2 linked regions of the Homo sapiens genome follow. The protein of the gene in region 1 purifies or fractionates together with the protein of each later gene. This does not show direct contact. Each region holds a gene or a part of one and is shown on either strand. Other genes may lie near its edges.

The links.
Region 2: the proteins of KLK4 (region 1) and KCNIP4 purify together in Homo sapiens (affinity purification with mass spectrometry; 2 studies listed by BioGRID and IntAct, with this or other methods). This does not show direct contact.

The regions. Positions count from the first base shown.
Region 1 is NC_000019.10:50,905,011-50,917,859, forward strand, and holds KLK4 (kallikrein-4 isoform 1 preproprotein), read right to left. Parts: upstream 6,386-12,849; 5' UTR 6,329-6,385; intron 5,740-6,328; 5' UTR 5,729-5,739; coding exon 5,668-5,728; intron 4,405-5,667; coding exon 4,242-4,404; exon of another isoform or gene 4,230-4,241; intron 3,820-4,229; coding exon 3,569-3,819; intron 3,486-3,568; coding exon 3,349-3,485; intron 2,077-3,348; coding exon 1,924-2,076; 3' UTR 1,341-1,923; downstream 1-1,340. UniProt on the Homo sapiens protein: Has a major role in enamel formation. Required during the maturation stage of tooth development for clearance of enamel proteins and normal structural patterning of the crystalline matrix.
Region 2 is NC_000004.12:20,727,849-20,739,576, forward strand, and holds the end of KCNIP4 (Kv channel-interacting protein 4), read right to left. Parts: intron 6,888-11,728; coding exon 6,780-6,887; intron 4,938-6,779; coding exon 4,833-4,937; intron 4,710-4,832; exon of another isoform or gene 4,221-4,709; coding exon 4,158-4,220; coding exon of another isoform or gene 4,089-4,157; exon of another isoform or gene 2,282-4,088; coding exon 2,234-2,281; 3' UTR 758-2,233; downstream 1-757.

The sequences.
Region 1 (12,849 bases):
CGCGATCTTGGCTCACTGCAACCTCCACCTCCTGGGTTCAAGTGATTCTCCTGATTCAGCCTCCTGAGTAGCTGGGATTACAGGCACCTGCCACTATGCCTGGCTAATTTTGGTATTTTTAGTAGAGACGGGGTTTCACCATGTTGGCCAGGCTGGTCTTGAACTCCTGCCCACCTTGTCCTCCCAAAGTGCTGGGATTACAGGTGAGCCACCGCACCTGACCCCAATCTGTTTCTATACCTATTCCCCTCTCCCATCCCAGCAACCAGGCCACATTGAATAATTTTGCCTGTTCTAGAATTTCATATAAATATAATCATATAGTGTATCATATTTTGTGTCTGGCTTCTTTCACTCAGAATAATGATTTTGAGATGCATGTATGTTGTTGCTTATATCAATAGTTTATTTCTTTCTGGTGCAGAGTAGCAATCCATTGTATGGATATATCACAGTTCGCTTATCCACTCACTTACTGATAGACATTTGCTGCATTTCCAATTTCATTATTATGCATGAAGCTACTATAAACATTCTTAGGGAAGTGTTTTCTATGGCTATTACCTAAATACCTAGGAGTAGAATTGCTAGCCGTCATGTGGATGTATGCCTGTCTTTCTAAGAATCTGCCAAGCTGTTTTCCAAAATGGTTGTAGCATTTTACCCCCTACCCCCAGCAATGTAGGAGAGTTACAGCTGCTGTAGATATAACCAAGACTTGATGCTGTTATTCTTTTCAATTTTAGCCATTCTGGTAGCTGTATGTCTTTTGAAATGATTCTATATTTTTCAGATACTGGGTGCAACATTCCATATATGACCATTAAATAGAGTATGTTAATCATACTGTTCAAATTATCTATATACTTATTCAGTCTCCCATCTCCTTGCCCCTCAGTTGCCCCATTGTGCCCCTCAAACTTCCCTCTTTCTACTCCTTGGTCTCTGTTGCTGTCACTCACAGTAGCCCTCGCCACAATTCTCCCCACTAGACTCTAGCTGCAGCAGCCAACTTCTGAGACACATGCAAATTAAAAATTCTTGAAATGCAGTTAAGAAGACAAAAATGAATATAGATCAACTAAAGCTGAATAGTTAAACTAAGCAAGAAAATCTCTACGGTTACCATTTGCTGACCTGACTTTTCAGAAACTGGACAACATCCATGGCACTGGTTTCTCTTAACTATCCAGGGAATGGCCCCTCCCTCTGAAACTCTGTGGCCCTCCTGGTCAAAGCTCGCATTTCCCAGATAGGGAAATGCGACCCATGGAGGGAAAGCCATTTGCTGGAATCTCTTGAATGGAAGGGGAAGCAAGGAGGACACTACAAACAGAACCTGCGCTTCTCTTAGACTTTATTTCTGGATCTAGGGGAAAGGGACAAAAAATGAAAAACCAACTGGTAAGGTTGGGTCAACGTGCCACAAGGGGGCACTGTGTACAGGGAGAGTCTAGGTGGCATTGGACCGCTGGGTCTGAGGGAGGAGGGGCTGGGACCTGGACCTCTGGGTCTGGGGAAGGAGGGGTTGGGGGCCTGGACCTCTGAGTCTGAGGGAGGAGGGGTTGGGGGCCTGGACCCCTGGGTCTGAGGGAGGAGGGGCTGGGGGGTCTGGACTCCTGGGTCTGAGGGAGGAGGGGCTGGACTCCTGGGTCTGAGGGAGGAGGGGCTGGGGGGTCTGGACTCCTGGGTCTGAGGGAGGAGGGGCTGGACTCCTGGGTCTGAGGGAGGAGGGGCTGGGGGGTCTGGACTCCTGGGTCTGAGGGAGGAGGGGCTGGGGATCTGTACCCTTGGTTTGAGGGAGGAGGGGCTGGGGGCCTGGACTCCTGGGCCTGAGGGAGGAGGGGCTGGGAACAGATATTCCTGAATTCCTTCCGCAGGATGTATTTGGGGGTCAATTTCATGGGTTCCCAGTCCCCAGAGTTAACTGGCCTGGACGGTTTTCTCTATCCACTCAGTGAATTTGCAGAGGTTGGTGTAGACACCTGGCACGCCAACTTGGCCACACGGGGCTTTTCCGAAAGACACAAGGCCCTGCAAGTACCCGTTGCAGATCAGGGGCCCCCCAGAGTCACCCTGTTGTGAAGAGAGGGAGAGTCAGAATTCAAAACACAGAGAGGTGGAAATGGATGTGGGCTCAGAAAGGAACTAAATGAGACTGAGAAACAAAGACAGAACCATCATCAATAACAACATAGCCCAGCAACATATCTGTTGGAAGTCCCATTCCAGATCCCTGACTTCATCTAATCCTGCTTCCCGATGTCCTATGTCCTGAATGCTGGCTGCTTCTCTTGGGCTTGTGGTCTGTCTGTTTCTGTTTGTCTGTCTCTCCTTTGTCTCCTTTGTGGCTTGTTTATCTGTCTCAGTGTCTCTGCATCTCTTTGTAAAGTCTTTTTTTTTTTTTTTTTTTTGAGACAGAGTCTTACTCTGTTGCCCCAGCTGGAGTATAGTGGTGTGATCTCAACTCACTTCAACCTCTGCCTCCCATATTCAAGCAATTCTTCTGCCTCAGCCTCCCAAGTAGCTGGGATTACAGGCGCCTGCCACCATATCCAGCTAACTTTTGTATTTTTAGTACAGACAGGATTTCACCATTTTGGCCAGGCTGGTCTTGAACTCCTTACCTCAAGTGATCTGCCTGCCTCGCCTCCCAAAGTGCTGGGATTACAGGCATGAGCCACCCTGCCCAGCCTCTTTGTAGAGTCTTGATTTTTCCTGTTTCTCTTCGTGTTTCACCTCTATGAATCTGTGTCACTGTTTCCCTCTGGGTACACAGTTGACCCTTGAACAACCCTGGTTTGAACTGCACAAGTCCACTTATACTTGGATTTTTTCAATAAACACATTAGAAAAATTTTAGGAGAGTTGCAACAATTTAAAAAAATTCACAGACGAACTGTGTAGCTTAGAAATATCAAAAAATTCCAACAAAGGTATATCATGAATGCATAAAACGTATGCATAAATCGACTATTTATGTTATTGGTAAGGCTCCCCGTCAACAGTAGGCTATTTCTAGTCAGGTTTTTGGGGAGTCAAAAGTTATAAGAGGATTTTCTGTTGGGTGGAGGTCACCGCCCTCAGGCCCCATGCTGTTGGAAGGTCAACTGCATTTCTATGTGTGTGTGTTTCTGCCTCCCCATGTCTGTTTCTGTTTCTCTCTTCCTTTGCTTCTCTTTATTCCTGTGTTTATTTCTCTGTTTCTCTCAGTTTCTCTCTCTAGTTGTCACTGTCTCCCTGTGTGTCTCTCCATCTCTGCATCTCGCCATGCGGCCCTGTGTGTCTCTGTCTCCCCCTTCTCCACCCTTCCCTGAGTCGCCTGCCCTCCCCTTTCCCCTCTCTCACGTTGCAGGAGTCCTTCTGGTCTTGCCCTCCGCCGGCGCAGAACATGCTGGGGTGGTACAGCGGGTCATAGAGCTTACTGCAGACCTCCTCAGACACCACCGACACGTTCACGCACTGCAGCACGGTAGGCATTCTGCCTGGGACGCAGAGCTCTGGGTCAGCCCCCGCGACTGGGCAGAGGACCTCCTTGAAGAGGGCAGACACACACCCGTGAGCTCACCGTTCGCCAGCAGACCCCAGCCAGAAACGAGGCAAGAGTTCCCCGCGGTAGGGCACTGCGAAGCAATGCTGATGCTCCGGATGGTGTCAGACTCGGACACGGATTCGTCCAACTTGATGAGCATGAGGTCGTTAGCGAGCAAGGGTCTGTTGTACTCTGGGTGCCGTACGGAGAGGCTGGCCTCCACCATCTGGCTCCCTGGCTCTTGGTCGGCCTCAAGACTGTGCAGGCCCAGCCCGATGGTGTAGGAGCTGTGGGCCACGGAGGGCAGGTCAGTTTTGTGGCAACTACATCCTTACCTCCATTCTCATCTTCAACCCCATTCCCATCCCCATCTCCTAACCCCAACCCCACCCTCTTCGCTAAACACCCTAAGAGCTACTTAACCATGGTCTCAAATCCTCATTCACAAAAATTCAGGGACAAGAACTTGCCTTAGTTCACTAGAGACTCAGCACTGGGCTGAGATTTCAAGTCAGGACTCTCTGAGTCCTTCCGAAGCAAGATTCCCGCCTCCCAGCCCTTCCCTCTGGGGCTCCCCGGATCCAGGCTCATTCCGTCCTCCTCCCAGAGCCTTCACCGCTGTTTCCCCCTGAGCACCCCAAGATGAGCCTGATATTAGGCCCCGCCCCCGGACCCAGGCCCTGCCCACTCCCCCTACCTCTGCACTCACTTCTGGAAACAGTGTGCGGCTGACAGCACCCACTGCGGATGCACCAGGACGCCCGAGCAGAACAATTCGTTTTCCATGACCAGTGCCGCCTGCCAGGGCTGCGAGTGCGGGCTGCAGTCCTCGCCGTTTATGATTTGGCTGCAGCTACCAGAGACGAGCGATCCTGAGGGCGGAGTCAGGGATGGGATCGGGACCAGGAGGCGGGCCCAGGGTTCCTGGGGGTGGGCTTACCGAGCAGGGGCGTGGTCAGAGGTTCAGGAGCAGTCAGGGCTCCTCGGGGCGGAGTCAGGGCTGGGAACGGGCTCAGGAGGCGGGCCCAGGGCTCTTGGGGGAGGGGTTACCGAGCAGGGGCGTGGTCAGGGCTTCAGGAGCAGTCAGGACTCTTGGGGGGCCGAGTCAGGGCTGGGGGCGGGCCCAGGGGGCGGACCCAGGGCTCCTGGGGGTGGGGTTATGGTGCAGGGGTCATGATCGGAGCTTCAGGGGCTGGTCCAGGATATAGGCCTAGGGCTCCCAGGGGCGGTGATCACGGTGCAGGAGCCTGGTCAGGGATTCAGGGTAGTCAGGGCTCCTGGGAGGAGAGTCAGGGCATGGGGGTGGGCTGAGAAGGCGGGATCAGTGCTCCTAGGGTTGGGGTTACAGCGCAGGGGCGCCATCAAGGCTTCAAGAGCTGGGTTATGGCTAGAGGCAGTCTCAGAAGGTGGGACCAGGGCTTCTGGGGCGGAGTCAGGGCTCTGGGGTGAGCTCTGGAGGTGAGACTGGTGCCATCGCGGTGCAAAGCCACGGTCAGGAGGGGTTCAACAGAGGAGTCTAGGCTCATAGCAGTAGGATCGGGTCCTTCGGGGTGAATTAAAGCTCAGGGGGTGGAGTTGTTGCTGGGAGCAAGGATCGGGTCACTTGTCTGCGCAGACTGATGCTCAAAGAGTCGGTCCTGCGCCGAGTCACTCCTATCCTCTCCCAGCCTTGCCCACAGTCACACCAAGCCACAAGCCCATGCACACCAAAACACCGTTTTATAGTCCTGTGAGGTGAGTTCCTTGGGGATGGGAGAGGGGGATCTCAGGACTGAAGACCCAGGAAGCAGGCACAGATTCCCAGCAATGGATCACGCCCCAGGAAGCACAATCTCCTGCACCCTCGGCTTCCCCTGTCCCCATATCATCATTACACTGTTGTCACTCCACCAGATATTCAGAGGCACAAACTGTCAGAGTCTCACAGGTACAACCACACACCCAGGCACACTGCCACACACAAATTTACCACGATACAAGGAGTTGCAGGGGCACAGCCATGGGGGACGGATAACACGGTACCGTCTCACAGGCAGCTTTGCAGTCACAAGCAAGAGGACACTGAGTCACACCTGAACATTAACAAACACTGTGCCCCCAAGCACGGACAGACACACACACGCATACTCAGATACCTGCGACACCAAGGATGAGGTACCCCAGGAACCAGCCCCAGGGATTTCCTGCTGTGGCCATCACGTCAGCACCTGGGGATGAGGACTGAGACTTAGCCGTGTCTGGGGATCTTCAGCCCAAGTCTCTCCATCCCTCTCTTTGTCCCTCCCTTTCTTCCCTCTGGGACGTTATTAGGTAGGCAAGAGCCTAGACCATCTACCCCCTCTCCCATCCATGGACCCAGAACCTAGAGAGACAGATTTAGAGACTGAGAGAGAAAAAGAGAGAGAGAGATGGGAAAAGAGAGAGAGAGAGAGAACTAGGTAGAAAGGAAAGTTTAGAGAAAGCATCTAGCCATCTGTGAATGGGGAGAGATGGTGTCTAGCCACCCACAAACAAGCATGGAGGGAAGACACACAGAGAATCAGAGCCGGAGAGACAGAGTGCTTGAGAGATATCCTCAGAGACAGTCTGAGAGTTAGACATGGAGATATAGATTCAGAGAGACAGAGAGACCCCTAACTAGAGACAGTGACTCCTAACTAGAGACAGTGAGAGATCTGTCTAGAGAGATGTGGAGACAGAAGGCACAGAGGCTGAGAATCCAGCGACATGGAGCTGTAGGGAGAGTTGGATCATGAACACTGCAGGCTTTTAGTGGGGGACCACCAGGCCTCTTACCCGGCCACCTCTGGGCTCCTGGATTCCACTGCTGGGCTGAGCTCCAGCCTGCTGCCTCCCGCAGGGGCCTCCTTGGGGCTTATAAGCATCCTCAGCCTGGGCTGGCCTGCCCCCAGGGGATGTGTTCCAGGGGTCAGGTGCTGCAAACTTCCAGCTCAACTCTCTCAGGCTGCCTCAACTCTGACCAGGCAGTGGTTGGGGGCCCAGAAGGGGCTGGCAGCAGGGTCTAGGGACCCAGGGAGGAGACCCCTGCCCAGATCCTAGACTCCACTCTCCTTTTTCTTTCTCTCTCTCTCTCTCATTCTTTCTCTTTTCATGTTCTTATTCTCTCTCATGAGATACCTCTCTCTTGCCTGTATCTCTCATTTTCTCTTTCTCTTCTTCTTTCTTTCTCTCATTCTCTCTCTCATTATTTTTCTCGTGTTTTCTTTCATTTCCTCTCATTCTCTCCTGTTCTCTCTCATGTTCTTTCTCTTTTTAAATTAAATCTCTCTCTCTCTCTCCCCTCCTCCTTCATCCCTCTCTTTCTGTGCTTCTCCAGCAAATTTCCCCAGGTTCGTATCCAGCCTACATCACGAACTATTTTTGGAACCTTGGGCAAGTGACTGCACCCCTGTGAGCCTGTTTTTCCAACTGTAAAACTGGAGTGACCATTATGCCCCATTTCCCAAGTGGATTCAAAGAGGTAATTCAGGGAAAGGCACACAGTGCCAGGCACATTGTAGGCTCTCGGTGAGCGGGAGAACTAAAAAGTCTTCGCTCAGTGAAAAGCAGCTGAGTGCCTACCACACTCCGAGCTCTGCGGCAGGTGCTGGGGCCACAGGAGGAACCAGCAAAGTCCTCGTCACTGGGGATCGCGTCCTACCCGGGGGCACAGACCATAAAGGAAAACTGCAGGGACCAGCATATAAGGTGGTGGTCGGGGAGACTCAGAGAAGGGGAACATTTAAGCTGAGATCCCAGGGAAGAGGAGGAGGAGGGTCGCCGCAGCAGGGGCGGTTGCGGGGTGCAGGGGAGAACTTGGCTCCAGCCAGAGGAGGGCAGGGCGGGTAGGAGGGCAGGGCGGGTAGGAGCGCAGACCGGGAACCGGGCGGGCCTGCAGGAGTTTACGTACCAGGATTAAGGAGCTTGGGTTTTACTTAAGTGCAATGGATTTTAAGCACGAGGATGGAGTGACATAATCTTATTTACTTTTTAAAAACTTCCAGCTTGGAGAGTGATGGTGGGGGCGGGGCGGGGGGCAGTGGCAACAGCCCAGGTGGGAGGTGACGGGGTCAAGGGAGAAGAGAGGTGAATGGACACGGGGTCCCCTCTGCATGTGGAGCCAAGTTACTGCCCGATGGATGGAAAGTGGGGGGCCAGGAGCAGAGGGGCCAAGGATGGCGTGGAGGCTTGGTCTGCTGGCTTGCGCTCTACGGATCTTGTGGAGACGCATAGGTGCGGGAAGGGGGGTGGGGGGTGAGAGGGTGCCGTAGACCGCGGAGGGTGCACGGAGGGGCAGGCCGAGGTCAGGACTGCCGAGAAACAGCGGGGACTCATCAGGGGAGAGGTGGTGTTTACAGCCACGAGGCCGGGTGAGATCATCCAAGGAGTGGGTGGGTGTAGACCGCGGAGCCGGCGCGGGTGAGGGATAGTGCCCGCAGGTGACCGCGACGAGGCAGGAATGTCTCTGTGTCTCTCTGTCTCTCCTGGGTCTCTAACACTCTTTCCTTCTCCTTCCTTACTTCTTTCCCCCACAGCCCACCCCGTGTGTCTGTCTCTCTTTCTCTCTGGCTCTCTTTTCCTCTGCCTCTCTGGTCCCATCTCTGTCTCTCTCCCCCTTGTCTCTGTTTCTCTCACCTGCCAGACTGGAAGCATCCCAAGTGAGACCCTCCCCCAACTCTGTCCTGGGCCCGTGCGCCCCCAGATAACTCTGGGCAGGACGGGACATAGGCTGGGACCACAGAACAGGAAGCCCTGGCAGGTTTCTGTCTCTGTCTCTCTTTTCCCTGTCCCTGTCCCTTTCTCTCTCTGATCCCTTCTCTCTCGCTCTCCCTCTGACCTCTGTCTGTGACCCTCTGATCTCTGTCTGTCTCTGTCTGCCCCTGTGTGTCTCTCTTTCCTCCTGTCTCTGTCTCACCTTGCCTTCTCTCTCTGTCTGTGTCTCTGCACCTGTGTCTGTCCATCTTTCTCTGTGTCTCTCTCCTCCCATCTCTGTCTCTGTCTGTGGCTCCGCACCTGTCTCTGTCCATCTTTCTCTGTGTCTCTCTCCTCCCATCTCTGTCTCTGTCTCTCTGTCTGTCTCCGCACCTGTCTGTCCATCTTTCTCTGTGTCTCTCTCCTCCCATCTCTGTCTCTGTCTCTCTGTCTGTCTCTGCACCTGTGTCTGTCCATCTTTCTCTGTGTCTCTCTCCTCCCATCTCTGTCTCTGTCTCTCTGTCTGTGTCTCCGCACCTGTGTGTCTGTCCATCTTTCTCTGTGTCTCTCTCTCCTCCCATCTCTGTCTCTGTCTCTCTGTCTGTGTCTCCGCACCTGTGTCTCTGTCCATCTTTCTCTGTGTCTCTCTCTCCTCCCATCTCTGTCTCTGTCTCTCTGTCTGTGGCTTCGCACCTGTCTCTGTCCATCTTTCTCTGTGTCTCTCTCTCCTCCCATCTCTGTCTCTGTCTCTCTGTCTGTGTCTCCGCACCTGTGTGTCTGTCCATCTTTCTCTGTCTCTCTCTCCTCCCATCTCTGTCTCTGTCTCTCTGTCTGTCTCCGCACCTGTCTGTCCATCTTTCTCTGTGTCTCTCTCCTCCCATCTCTGTCTCTGTCTCTCTGTCTGTCTCTGCACCTGTGTCTGTCCATCTTTCTCTGTGTCTCTCTCCTCCCATCTCTGTCTCTGTCTCTCTGTCTGTGTCTCCGCACCTGTGTGTCTGTCCATCTTTCTCTGTGTCTCTCTCCTCCCATCTCTGTCTCTGTCTCTCTGTCTGTGTCTCCGCACCTGTGTCTCTGTCCATCTTTCTCTGTGTCTCTCTCTCTCCTCCCATCTCTGTCTCTGTCTCTCTGTCTGTGGCTTCGCACATGTCTCTGTCCATCTTTCTCTGTGTCTCTCTCTCCTCCCATCTCTGTCTCTGTCTCTCTGTCTGTGTCTCCGCACCTGTGTGTCTGTCCATCTTTCTCTGTGTCTCTCTCCTCCCATCTCTGTCTCTGTCTCTCTGTCTGTGTCTCCGCACCTGTCTCTGTCCATCTTTCTCTGTGTCTCTCTCCTCCCATCTCTGTCTCTGTCTCTCTGTCTGTGGCTCTGCACCTTTGTCTCTGTCTATCTTTCTCTGTCTCCACTTTCCTCCTGTCTTCTCTCATGTTGCTCTGTCTTTGTTTTCCATGCGCTTCCAACACTTCTCCCTTCGCTCTCTTCATTGTGTCTCAACTCAAGTGTTACTTCTTCAGAGCCCTTCCCTGAGCCCTCCCCTAGTCTGATTCAGGGTCTTCACTCCCCTATTTGTTTTTTCATCTTATAGCATCCTACATGCTCCTTTAGAGAATTTGGTACAATGTATACACGTATTATTATGTGTTTCTTTTTCTTTTTTTTTCTTTTTTGTTTGTTTGTTTGTTTCTTTGAGATGGAGTCTCACTGTGTTACCCAGGCTGGAGTAGAGTGGTGCGATCTCTGCTCACTGCAACCTCCGCCCCCCGGGTTCAAGCGATTCTCCTGCCTCAGCCTCCCCAGTAACTGGGATTATAGGTGCCTGCCACCAATTCTGGCTAATTTTTGTATTTTTAGTAGAGATGGGGTTTCACCATGTTGGCTAGGCTGGTCTCAAACTCCTGACTTCAGGTGATCCGCCCACCTTGGCCTCCCAAAGTGCTGGGATTACAGGCGAGAGCCACCGCGCCCGTCTTGTGTGTTTATTTTTCTAGTAGCTGTTTCTTTCATTAGTGTGGGAGCCCCTTGGGGACAGGGCTGGTGTCTGTTATGTTCACTGATAAAAACTATTCACTGCAGATGTGTTGAGTGGATGGATAAAGGGAGATACAAAAATAGAGAGAGACAGACAGGAGAGGGAGAGATGAAGGCTGACGGAGAGAGAAAATAACAACAGACAACAATGGTAGCTTACTATTAATTAACCTTTAGAATATGTTAAATTAATTGTAAGGAGGTCAAGAACTTACCTTATGTCTGGCCCTCTTCTAAGTATTTTAAATGCAATAACAAATGTATTCCTCAAAAAAATCTAAGAAGTAGATGCTGCTATGAACTTTGTTTGACAGATGGAGAAACTGAGGCACAGAGAGGGTAAGTAGTTTACCAAGGTCACAGAAAGACTGAGGCCAAAAGAGAAGAACAGACAGAAGTGGGTAGATGGAGAGTAGGAGAGAGCTGGGAACACACTGAGAGATGTGGCCAAAAAGATAGGAAGACGCTGAAAGAGAGACACGTCTCAGGAATTAGGAATAATCATCACTTTAAAAATAATAAAATATCAGGTTGGGCGCGGTGGCTCACGCCTGCAATCCCAGCACTTTGGGAGGCTGAGGCGGGTGGATCATCTGAGGTCAGGAGTTCGAGACCAGCCTGGCCAACATGGCAAAACCCCATCTCTACTAAAAATACAAAAATTACCTGGGCGTGGTGGTGGGCCCCTGTAATCCCAGCAACTTGGGAGGCTGAGGCAGGAGAATTACTTGAACCCGGGAGGCAGAGGTTGCAGTGAGTCGAGATCGCGCCATTGCACTCCAGCCTAGGTAACAAGAGTGAAACTCTGTCTCAGAAAACAAACAAGTAATAATAATAATGATAAAATATCTAACATTTATCTATCACCTCTCTTCTAGTTGTCATGGTAACAATTTTATACAAGTTAACTAGTTTTAATTTTCATAACTCCCTGAGGTACTCATCATTATTCCCAATGTGATGAAAGAGGAAATGAACGCACAGAGAGGGCAAGCTACTTATTGAAGATCACACAGCAAAGCAGCCATGCACATGGGCTGCCTGACCCCAGAGCCCATATCTTGAGCTGTTATGCCACCTCTCTCTATAAGTCAGGAAACAGAAGCTGAAGCCAAAGGACAGGTGGGCCTTCCTGTAGATACACAGGTCATGGGGGCCCACCCTGGCCCACTATCCATCATCTGAGTCATCTGAGTTCACCCCCACCTGCGGATGAGATGCAGCCTCAGCCAGAGAAGCCAGGGAGTATTGCTGGGGAGGGGAGGGAATGCGGCCACAGACGGGGCCACCCGCCCACCGAGAGAGCCCGCTCTTACTGTATAACTGGAAGAACAAGCCCCTTCTACCTCCCATCCCCCTGGGGGCTGGCTGAGCCACAAGAGGCATGAATCTCTGGATGCAGTGGTGCCGCTGCACTAAGGCCCCGAGGCAGCCCCAGCCATCTCTGCTGAGGTGCCCAGAGCAGCCCTTAGGGAACTGACCCCTGAGTTTTCCTCAGTAACCTCAGGGAACTCCTGTCGGCTGGATTTGAACAAACCTCAAGGGTGGAAGAAGGCATCACTCTTGCTTTTTTTTTTTTTTTTTTTTTTTTTGAGATGGAGTCTCGCTCTGTCGCCCAGGCTGGAGTCCAGTGGTGGGATCTCGGTTCACTGCAACCTACTCCTCCCAGGTTCAAGCAATTCCCCTGCCTCAGCCTCCCGAATAGTGGGGATTACAGGCACACACCACCACACCCGGCCCATCCTTGCCTTTTATTCAATAACATAAGGCTACCTTGGGGCAGATTGTATTACACAAGAAAAGTCTTTTCCTTCCTTAGTATGGACGATAGGATATTCAGTAGGAAGAAAACTCAAAAGTCCTGGTGTGAGTGGCTCCTTTTCCTGCTCCGGTCTCAAGAGGAGAGAGGCTGGGACTGAATGGTGCAATCCTGGGATCTCCTCCAGAAGTGGGGAGGAGGATGGAGAGACGGACTTTGGGAGAAGGAAAGATGGAGCTCACTCCAGCATGAGGGAGGTGCAGGGAGGCAGAGAGAACACAGCCTGTTTGCCAGCAAGATGGGAGGATGGCTGTGGGCTGGGGGGACCACTCTGGGGAGGATCTTCTAGCCACTCTGCAGCAGCAAGTAGAAGAACCCCAGTAAATAATAAAGGAGGGCTGGGCACAGTGGCTAACGCCTGTAATCCCAGCACTTTGGGAGGCTGAGGCAGATGGATCACTTGAGCTCAGGGGTTCGAGGCCAGCCTAGGCAACATAGCAAGACCCCGTCACTACTAAAAATAAATTAGCCAGGCATAGTGGTGCACACCTGTCGTCCCAGCTACTCAGGAGGCTGAGGCAGGAGGAGGATCGCTTGAGCCCAGGAGTTCAAGGCTGCCGTGAGCCAAGATCACACCACTGCACTCCAGCCTGTGAGAGCAAAAACAAACAAGGCTGGGCATGGTGGCTCATGCCTGTAATCCTAGCACTTTGGGAGGCCAAGGCGGGTAGATCACCTGAGGTCAGGAGTTTGAGACCAGCCTGGCCAACATGTTGAAACCCCGTCTTTATTAAAAGTACAAAAAATTAGCCGGGCTTGGTGGTGCGTGCCTGTAATCTCAGC
Region 2 (11,728 bases), on another chromosome or scaffold:
TAATCATAGCTCACCGCAAGCCTCAAATTTTTGTGCTCAGATGATCCTTTTCATCTCAGCCTCCTGATTAGCTGGGACTATAGGCGTGTGCCACCATGCCCAGCTAATTTTGAAATTTGCTTGTAGAGATGGGATCTCACTCTGTTGTCCAGGCTGGTCTCAGAATTCTGGTGAGTGATCCTCCCACAGTGGACTTCCAAAGTGCTGGGATTACAGGTGTGAGCCACCATGCCTGGCCCCATGAATACACTACTAATATTATTTGTAAATATGTATTTTATAATGTACAATGCTTGGAAAATTTTCAGAGTATTCTAGTTTAAAAAATTTTTTCTAATTCTGTAAATTCTATTACAAGTATGTTGTTTATTACAACTCATTACAACTACCTAAATTTTAGGTGTTAACTGTATTTAAGTAAATGTGTTATTTTTGCATTTCATAGCCAGAAAATACTGATGTTCACTTAAAGATATTCAGCAATTAAAATGTTAAAACTTGTACATGCATTCATTGATTTTGTTGTGCTTATGTTTAGCAATTTTTAAGAAGCTTTTAAAATATAATATAGACATAGTTCAGAATTTTGATGTAATAGAAGCAATTCCCTCTGGCTACAACAGCTGCCTGCCTGCTGGCCTTGCTTTTACCTGTTTTCATTGCATTGAGCACCATCCAGAGCTATCTGCCATCTAGAAAGTACTGTAAGATTTAATTAATTACAAAATTTCTTGGAAAAGACCTGTAACATAGACAGTAGAGTTATAAACATTTTATTTTGCTTTTATTTTTTCTTTTTGAAATACAAAATGTGCACATTGAGTTTACACAAACACGTGATGGCAAATTTCAGTGTACATGTATTGTACTACTCTTAATTTCTACACTGGTGATAGCAGGGCAGCTTTCAACATCCTATCTCTACACCAGAATAGATACCTGATTTATTGTTGCAAAGACAGTTGCAAATTTCCTCCTTCTGTAGCCTCTTGGTCTTTGTGATATTTCTACAAAACAGGGACGATGTGTGTGGCTTTAGTAATGTGGCAACTTTACAGTTTTGGCTAAGATGATTAAAAATAATCTGAATTATGATGAGCTAAATCATACTGTAATCTGGATTAGTTGTTGAGCACTTATTTTCTACTAAATCTTGGTAGTAGTTGTCAATGTAATGGAACCACTGGTGCTTTCAAAGTGAATTTTGCTTGCTAATTTTGCTTGCTGTTTGTTCTTAGTAGACAGTGGGGTAGTCAAGGTTTCTTTCTTTGTCCCTGAATGGCTTGTAATATAAATAAACATGCTGTAAGGAAGTCAGGGGAAAGAGGACAGATTTGGCCTTTAATGCTGTTAGGATTACTTGTTATTAAGCATTACTATATACTGGAGGATAGATATCCTGACCCTTTGCATATGTCTGTAAACATCCTTGTTTTGTTTGATGCCTTCTTCAACTTCCACTTAATGATTGATACTAATGATTGATACAATAGAAAACAGCCTGTAAGAAAGATTGAACAAATCCAAAATTATTATATAGGCCTTGGCTGTAACATATTATGGAAAATTAAATGCTTATTAAAATAAGTTTTATTAGGCATATGCTGATATCTGATAATAAACTAATTTTTAAATGTTTAATAATTTTTAAATGTTTAAAAATGCCAGATAAAACTAATTTCTAACAGAAGGTGGGAAGGCCATAGAAACTGGAACTATGTGTTTTTTTAATTGTTGTAATCTTGTTTCCTTAAAGTATATAAATGGAATTTAAATGGAATTACAGCATTCAAACATGAAAATTAATTTAATTTCTGGAAATTAAATGCAGATGTCACTATATTAGAAAACCATTCAAAATCCTAGGACTGAATACATACAAATGAGTAGCAAAAAACACTGATATTTTAAAATCACTGATATGTGAAAGCCTCAATAATCCCATGGCTAAGGAACCAATAAAACTATATGCCAGATTCTATTACTTTTGAATATTCACAGAGTATGAAATGAGTTAGACCATCCCCTGAACTCAGTGGCATTATGAAAAGGATGCAAATTTATAACTGAAAGCTCAAATCTTTTGGGGATTGCTTTATATTAAAACAAAGCTTGTTTGCATAATATGCTTCAGTGTCAAGCTGAGCAATCTATGCTAAAAGTGGTAGCTCCAACTTTAAGGGTGGTAGAATAGTTCACATTTGTCTGTTGGATTCAGGATCTATTTGACAAGTTAAATCACATTTTCAAAGAGCTGCATGGAGCGCATTATGTTTTCATCCTGTAAGGGAGAAACACAGAGCGATTAAATTCAGCATATCTGCAAGGAAAAGTACACTATTTTGCCCCTGAGTATTGCCTCCTCCCATCAACCACCTCAACCACCTATGCCAAAAGCTCAAATATTAAGTGTTTGCAAATGTAAATGCCATTCTATTCTATCCATTTTCCACATAGATGACTATGAAGGACCCATTTTATATTTTGTGGAGTCTATTGACCAGGCATTAAACCACTTTATTTAAATCTTTACTTGGTATTAATAGAGGATATTTCTCAAATCATAATGCCAAAATGGAAACTACAGAGGTGCAGAGGTGTGTCAAAGCAAATGAGAATTTTGGCATTCTATGTAGATCACAGGCCAAATCACACAGACTTTTATACAGGTACAAGGAAAATTTGTGTGTATGAGCCAGCAGTTCATGAAGATTGGAGGCTGGCGCATAGGAGGCAGGGTGGTGGATTAAGAGGTAACATGTTTGCAGTAATCATCTCTCTTTCTGTCTGCTAGTTATGGCTAAAGCTGCATGGCCTGAAGGAGCCTTTAAAAATGAATGGTCTCTCAATTACAGAGAAAGAATTGGGGAGCAGAAACCACTGCTCAGTGGCTGTGTTCAGTTTAGCATATTCTTTAGAAATGAGTTAGGGGACAGACTTTGGGCATTATTGGAGCACTTGTCAGTTGCATGTGAATAGCACTTACTGAGCTGTTTATGGTAGTGGTAAATGGTGGCTGAACCAATAATGGCTTCCACTGCTAGAAACCAAGTAACATCACCGTCAAGCAGCTTAATGTCACCAAATTAATTCTCTCAAAGACCACTGCATGGAAATCCAAGTTGAGAGACAAGCAGACATCCAGAAAAGTAAGAACAACAATTTAAAAATAAAGAGAAAAACTAAAGAAACAACGGATTTCTTTGTTTTCAGGATTATTTGAAAAATTCTTTTTTTCTTTTTTTAGTTTTGAGGCAGAGTCTATTTCTGTTGCCCATCATTCTGGAGTGCAGTGGCACAATCATGGCTCAACAGGGATCAAGTGATCTTCCTGCCTCAGCCTCCCAAGTAGCTGAGACTTCAGCCACGTGCCACCGTGCCCAGCTAACTTAATTTTTTTTTGTAGAGATAGATAGGGTCTTGCTATGTTGCCCACATTGGACTCAAAATCCTGGCCTTAAGTTATCTTCCCGCCTCAGCCTCCCATAGTGCTGGGATTACAGTTGTGAGCTACTGTACCAGGCCTTAACAATTTTTAACTGTGGTTCTGCCCACACATCAAGTCAAATAATTCTAAGTAAGCTAACACTGGTTTCTTTGATAACAGGCTACTACCTGGAGTTCTCTTCAGAGAAAATTTTCCACTGTTTATTTTTTGTGACTGAAGACCATTAGTGAGTTCAGTCAAAGAGCCATTTCTTGTCCACATACACTAAAACAATGACTTTTCTCTTAGAAATCAGATAGAAGCTTGGCCTGTTGTGATGCCATACTTGGCTATCTAGGAATTCTAATGCTGTGGAGATATGATAGATAATATATGAGTGATGCTAAGTTTTGGCAAAGAGCAATTCAAATCTCATGTATGTTTTATCCTCCATGAATACTCTCTAAGGAATTTGGGAATCAACACAGTACATGTACAACTTTTGTATCCCCAGGGTTTCCTCCATAGCCTGACTCAGTGGGCACTCTAAATGTTGATTATGTAATTGGTGCTTGTTTTCAGAGTGGTAGGCTTATGCTGCATGTTGTAGAAGTGGTAAACTTAGGCATATGATCTCTATATTTCGCCCAGTTCATGGTAGCTAGCTGCTAATACTCAGTTTAGCTGTTATGATAGCTGAATTGATAGTTATTACACTTTCATTACTTACTTTTTGGCAGCTTTCAATGAACTCATCTATGGTAACAACCCCATCTTTATTTTTGTCCATTTTCTGTTCAGGAAGAAAACAAAAATTGTATTTAGACTTATCCCTTAATACCCTCACACCTGGACCAAATGAGCTGAAGCTGATAAAAAGAAAACCTAGCTGCTTATTTATTTCACGTGGAGGAACTGTTTCAGAGCAGGAACCAGCAGTTTTTTAGAGATAAAAATGATAGGGCCAAATGCTTCTGGCTTTTCCCTTTTCAATATAATGTGGTGAAGATGTAGAGTCACTCTGTCCTAGGTAAAATCCCACCTTCTAGATGTGACAGAGCTTGCGCAATTTGCTGAAACTTTCAGAGCTTGCTTTTTGTCTCATCTGTAAAATGAGATTAATGAGGATTTATAGGATTCTTGTAAAAACTGAATGAAAACAAAACTTGTGAAACATGAGAACTGTTTAGTGTTGTATCTTGGATTTAGTGAATGTTCAATAAATGCAGTTATCAGCATTGTAAATTCAAAACCAAAGCTATTAAATTAATAGGATGCTAAATACTGTTTTGTTTCAGTAAAAATTATTTTCCTTTGCTCTCTTTTGAATCATCGTGGTGCATGGCAAACATCAGGAAATTTTCTCCTAACTTCATGCCCTCTTGACTTCTGTTTTAATTCCTACCTGAAAAAATGTTTCAACGTGTTGTCTGGGAGCATCTTCTTTGAGGACAGGATATGTACATTTACCCATCATATCGTATATTGCTTTCATTATATCAAGCATTTCCTGAAAAATAAAAGGCACTCACGTGAGGCTGCACACATGTATGAAGAAACCAGTCTAAGAAGCTCTGACAGATTTTTCCTACTCAATTTTAAATTTTTGACTTTTTGTTTGTTGGATTCTTTGTTAGACGACTGTTGGTTGTCCCAAAGGAAAAGGCAACAAACAGCTTTCTGCCTTAAGAGCAGAAGAATCAGAATTTAAGAATGAATTCTGATCTCTTGGTTTCAAAAGGAAGCAAATTTCCATGTATCTACCATAGTCAGGAAAAGAATATGCTGGCTTAATGTTTGGATTTCTATAGACTTTAAGTAGACTATGTTTATTTAATTGCATTATATATCTTATGTGTTGATCATCAGTTTCCATCTATTGAGAATCAAATATACGGCACATCGTATATTGAGAAAAAACACCATTTAGAATTAGTGAAATTAATTGGTAAGTCTTAAGGTTCATTAGGGTTTTTGTTGTATTTTTCCTACTGTGGCTTTAACTTAAGTCACATGTGAAGACTAGTCAAAAAATTTTGACCCTGGGAAACACCTTTAAATTTTGTTATTAACTTTTTCTCTAAAACAGTCTAATTTTTGCCTTACCACTTTCATTCTTATGAGAGTAAAAATAATCTCTAATAACTTAAACATTTAGATTTATTGTTGCACATTTGTTTCACGTGAAAGATCTCTCAATTAGGTTAATACAGAGCGAATATATATTTACTTTTAAGAGTATTCAATTATAAATGATAGAGTAATTTGTAAACAGGTGAAACCTTTTAAGATGTTTTAAGCATAGATAAGTAGCAAGTAGTTTGTTAGACACAGGCAGAATTCTTGAGATGTGTTAAACACAGAGGTAAGAATTGAAGAACAAGAGATATTTAAGGTATCCTAAGTATCTGGGTAATAAATATTCATGATATAAAAATATACAAGAAGCACTATTTAGGATATGCTCCATATACATGAACACAATAGCCATAAGGTCTTAATTTGGCACCCACTAGTGATACCTATTCTGGCCCCAGGTGTCCTCTGTGCAAGAAACACAAATGAAACCCATTACTACTTATCAGGCTATACTCGTGACCTGGCACACTTGCACCTGTGTCTCTCCAGTAGCGCAAGTTCATGTCATTTGCTGTTGGCCCTGGGCACCTTTTGTCTGTGGGGCCTCTTGCTCAAAACTCAATTCTGGGGAAGTCTCGTGAGGCAAAGAGAGACAGGACATAGGCACACTGAGAATGCCCAGGATTTAGGGAGTGGTCTTTCAACCCCATTTGCAGCCTGTCCTGCGTGGTTAACTTACTCCATCCCTTTCTTTACTTCTCGCTGTGTTTTAAATTGGTTTAATAAACTGTGTAATACGAGTATCTTAATTTGGTCTGTGAACCTTGTTTCCTGGATAGTCTGCCTCAACGTGCATTTGGAGACCCCACCATTGCGTCAGGTCATTCCACAATCCCCATGATTGTAAAATTTCATTTCCTTATGGATCACATGCTGTGGGGAAAAGAAAGGCTTCAGGCTAAATGTTGAAACATGGGTTGGATACATTTTCTTTCTATCTGATTCCAACCATGATCTTTATTCCATTCACAGTATTTATTAAGATGCCAGCAGGAAACAAGGGTGTAATCTTTATGTGTTATATATTTACTTTGGAGCTTCACCATAAACTACTTCTATCCCAAGTTTTTAATTGTACATCTTTCTTCCACTACATAAAATATTTTGGAATTTCCTCAAAAAAACTTTTCAAATTAATAATTGCAATTAATATTTTAAAGTTAAGAAATGAAAATGGTCCAAATTACTGTGATGTTGGTGAGGCATCCCTTACCTCTTTAGTGATGTAGCCATCTTTATTTATGTCATACAGATTAAATGCCCAATTGAGTTTTTCTTGTACTGTCCCCCGGAGCAAAATGGAAAGACCTTTGATGAAATCCTGAAAAGAAATAAAAATTCAATTTTATATGACATTTTTAAAAAAACAAAAACAAAAAAAACAAATGATGTAAGTAAGGGCTACAACCCTCTGGATCTTGAACATTTAGCAAAATGATTGATGTGTTATTGGTTGTCTAGTTTTCAGACTTCTCTGTGGGCATAAATCACTCCTTAGTCTTAACATTTTCATATTCTAATTGGAAACTGAGTTAAATCAATGGTCATACTGGAAATTGTACCAGTGCGTACCCACACAGCTAGAGGCTTGAGTATAAGTGGTATTGGCTTTCCACTGCAAGTGCACATGATTTACTAAAAGAATCTAATAATAGTTTTTTCAAAAAAATACAAGTGCACACATAACACACTTCAATGAAAAACCGTTTGCTAATAAGAAATGTGGCTGTCCATAAAAGATAAACCAATTGTGGTCTTTAATTAGAAATCCAGTTATAATTTACATGTGGACAGTGGGTAAGAGCATGGAACTGGAAAGGACAGACTGCCTGGATTCACCCTCCAGCTATATTACTGGATGGCTTTGTGTCTTCAGGCAACTTAACATCCCTTTGCCTCAATTTTCGTATCTGTAAAATGGAGCTAATAATAGTATCTACCTCTTCACAATTTTATGAGGATTAAAAAAGAGGCTGCTTATAACAGTCCTTGGCAATGACATTGGCTATGTAAGTTTTTGTTAAGTAAATGGAGCCCTCAGTTTGTATCCTGGTTAGATTGCATTGCAGACTGGCCAGATTAACTTGATTAAATTCATTTAGTGTTTTTTTTTTTGTTTTTTTTTTTTTTTTTGAGATGGAATCTCGCACTGTTGCCCAGGCTGGAGTGCAGTGGCACAATCTTGGCTCACTGCAACTTCCACCTCCCACCTCCCAGGTTCAAGCCATTCTTCTGCCTCAGCCTCCCGAGTAGCTGGGACTACAGGCACCCGCCACCATGCCTGACTAATTTTTGTATTTTTGGTAGAGATGGGGTTTCACCATGTTGGCCAGGTTGGTGTCGAACTCCTGACCTTGTGATCTGCCCACCGCCGCCTCTCAAAGTGCTGGGATTACAGGCGTGAGCCACCACGCCTGGCCAGATTTCTTGTTGTTATGTACAGCAGGGTTAACGTTACAATGTGCTGTATTCAGTTTATAATCCACTTTTAGGTAGGAATGAAAGCAGAGGGGAAATCCAAAAGTCTTCTGGGTGAATTTGCATTATATCTCCCTTTCTCACATTCCTTCCTTTTATAGCTGTATTTCTATCTGAATTTCTCAAAATGTTTTTTCTTTTTTAAATAAGTAACATCCATATAGTTCAACATTTAAAAATTGTGTAAGCTGCCTGGTGAAAAATCTTTCTTCCCTTCCTGGACCCAGCCACCTGTTCCTTTCACTCATAGACTACTGGCATAAATAGTTTGTATTTACTTCCAAGGAATTTTTGTGCATACACAAGTATAAGATATATTTGTTTTACTAGCTAACAGACTTCTATACTTTTTTTTCCACTTAAGCATAAATCAGGGAAACAATTTGAGTTTCCATTGTATATGTAAATACATCGTAGTTTATTTAACCAAATTGTTCTTTTACATTTTTTCTCATCATTATTTCTAGGTATTTTAATATTTCTGTTGCTGTTGTAAATGAGATATTTTTTTCTATCATATATTCTAAACTAGTTGTTTGTATGTATGAAAGCCATTGATTTCTGTATGATAATTTTATACCCTGTCAATTTGCTGACATACGTTGGTTTTCTTCTGGGTTTTCATGTGTGCAATATTAGCTGCAAATGGAATTAATTTTACCTTTTTTTCTAATTTTTATATGTTTACTTTTTTCTAATTATATGGCCTAATATATATAGAACAGTGTTACATAATGAAAATGATAATAGATATTCTTAGTTTTTTCTTGAACTTGAGAATATTTCAATTCGCTTTTAAGCATGATACTTACTTTTATCATGGTAAAGAATTATACAACCCTTCCACTTAAGCAAATTTATCAAGAATGGCCACAGACCTTTTTTAGCAAAAATGAAAAAGACAAAAACAGAAATAATTGTCAAATTCATATTGCAAGGGACCCTGAATAGCCCAGTCAATTTTAAGAAAGAAAAACAAACTTGGAGGACTCACACTGCCCAATATCAAAACTTAGTACAAAGTTACATTAATCAAAACAGTGTGGTACTGGCATAAAGACAGATATATAGAACAGTAGAATAGAATTGAGTCTAGATATAAACCAGCTGTCTGTGGCCAATTGATTTTCGATAATGGTGCCAAGACCATTCAATAGCTATGGAAAGAATAATCTCAATATATGGTGCTGTGGCAACTGGATCACCATACTTAGTTTGCTTCCCATTGGCATGAAGGGTAGAATGTCAAGTGAGAGAAAAACAAGATTCCAGAGAAAGCCACAAGGAATTCCAATATTTGGCAGGTACAGAGAGGAGAAGCTGGCAAAGCATCTTGAAAAGAAGTTGCTAAAGAAGTGAGTCAGGAGAACAGAGCATTTCCCTAGGAAAGGATTGTTCATTTTGCTCCAAGGTTGGAAAAATGTTCACTGGACCAGCAACATGGAGGTCACCAGCAAGTGATAGGGAACGGTCCAGTGGAGTAGGAGTGAAGAGTAATTTTTAATGAGGAGCACTTTGAATACTGAAGAGAAGAATCTAAAAAGAGTAAGAGTCAGAAATGGGCTGTGCTCTTGAGAAGGTGGGGAGGATCCAGAACATGGGTAGATGGGCCGATCTGAGAAGGGAGTTGATACATGAGACAGAAGAACATGGTGTGGATGCCAGCAGCTGCTTTGCAGGTGGGAAGATGACTGTGTTTCTGTCCGATAGCTTTAGTGAGTGTGAGCTGTTTGAGAGTGAGGAGCCTGGTAGAAGAGGTAAGAATCTGAGGTTTGAGGAGAGAGGCAGAAGCTCTGATACTAAGCAGTAAGATGACATGCAAATTAGAGAAAGGGAGACCTCCCTCAAATTATTTCCCTGCCATATTTTAGAAAATTATTTATGACATAGAATGTAGTTTAGTTAAAAGGTAATGACAGCCCTTGGAGGTATGAGTGTACATCTTGCACAACCAGCAGGCTGGGGATCATGGCTCATGCCTGTAATCCCAGCACTTTGGGTGGTGGAGGTGGGAAGGTTGTTTGAGTCCAAGAGTTTGCAAGCAGCCTGAGCAACGCAGCCAGATCCAAATTAACAGCAAGAAAAACAAATTAACTGGGTATGGTGGTGCACACCTGTTGTCCCAGCTACCTGGGAGGCTGAGATGGGAATCACTTGAGCCCAGAAGGTCGAGGCTACAGTGAACTATGATTGCACCACTGTGCTTCAGCCTGGATGACAGACCAAGACTCTGTCTCAAAAAAAAAAAAAAAATCCTTAGCTTTTTCAGAAGGCATAAAATATACATTGCAGAACATAGAGCCTTATTCAAGGAAGATTGCTGAGCAGTTTTGAAAGGCTAGATGAGATTGATTGTTATCAATGTAAACGATATTTTTAAAAATTCACAGCGTAGTAATAATATGTCATTAATTGTAAGGGGAGCTGGCCACAGGGTCTTTGAAAACATGCTTAGAGTATTGGTTCTCAAAATATAATGTGCAACACAGTCACCTGGGGAGTGTGCCAAAAGATTTATGGGACCTACTCCAAGAATTATGATTCATTAGGTTGAAGTGGGACCCCAAAATTTACATGTCTGACACATTCCAAGGGGAAGCCTGTACTGCTTCCAGGGATCACACTTTGAGAATCACTGGCCTACAGCACTCATCACTGGCATTGACCTCACCACCACACAAAACAGCAGAGAAACAATGAAAGATTTAAAGATAGCACTTTTGGGGAATCCCCCCAAGATGGCTACATAGGAACAGCTCCAGTCTACAGCTCCCAGCATGAGCAACGCAGAAGATGGGTGATTTCTGCATTTCCAACTGAGGTACCAGGTTCATCTAAACTGGGACTTGTTGGACAGTGGATGCAGCCCACAGAGTGTGAGCCGAAGCAGGGTGGGGCATCGCCTCACCCAGGAAGCGCAAGGGGTTGGGGAATTCCCTTTCCTAGCCAAGGGAAGCTGTGACAGATGGTACCTGGAGAATCAGGACACTTCCTGCCAATATTGTGCTTTTCCAACAGTCTTAGCAAACGGCACACCAGGAGATTATATACTGCACCTGGCTCAGAGTGGCCCACACCCACAGAGCCTTGCTCACTGCTATCACAGAAGTCCGAGATCGAACTGCAAGGCAACAGTGAGGCTGAGGGAGGGGCGTCCACCATTGCTGAGACTTGACTAGGTAAAGCAGCCAGGAAGCTCAAACTAGGTGGAGCCCACTGCAGCTCAAGGAGGCCTGCCTGCCTCTGTAGATGCCACCTCTGGGGGCAGGTCATAGCTGAACAAAAGGCAGCAGAAACTTCTGCAGACTTAAACATCCCTGTCTGACAGCTTTGAAGAGAGTAGTTCTCCCAGCATGGAGTTTGAGATCTGAGAACAGACAGACTGCCTCCTCAAGTGGGTCCCTGACCCCCGAGTAGCATAACTGGGAAACACCTCCTAGTAGGGGCAGACTGACACCTCATACAGCCAGGTGCCCCTCTAAGACAAAGCTTCCAGAGGAAGGATCAGGCAGCAACATGTGCTGTTCTGTAGCCTCTGCTGGTGATAACCAGGCAAACAGGGTCTGGAGTGGACCTCCAGCAAACTCCAACAGACCTGCAGCTGAGGGTCCTGACTGTTAGAAGGAAAACTGACAAACAGAAGGGAATAGCATCAACATCAACAAAAAGGACATCCACACCAAA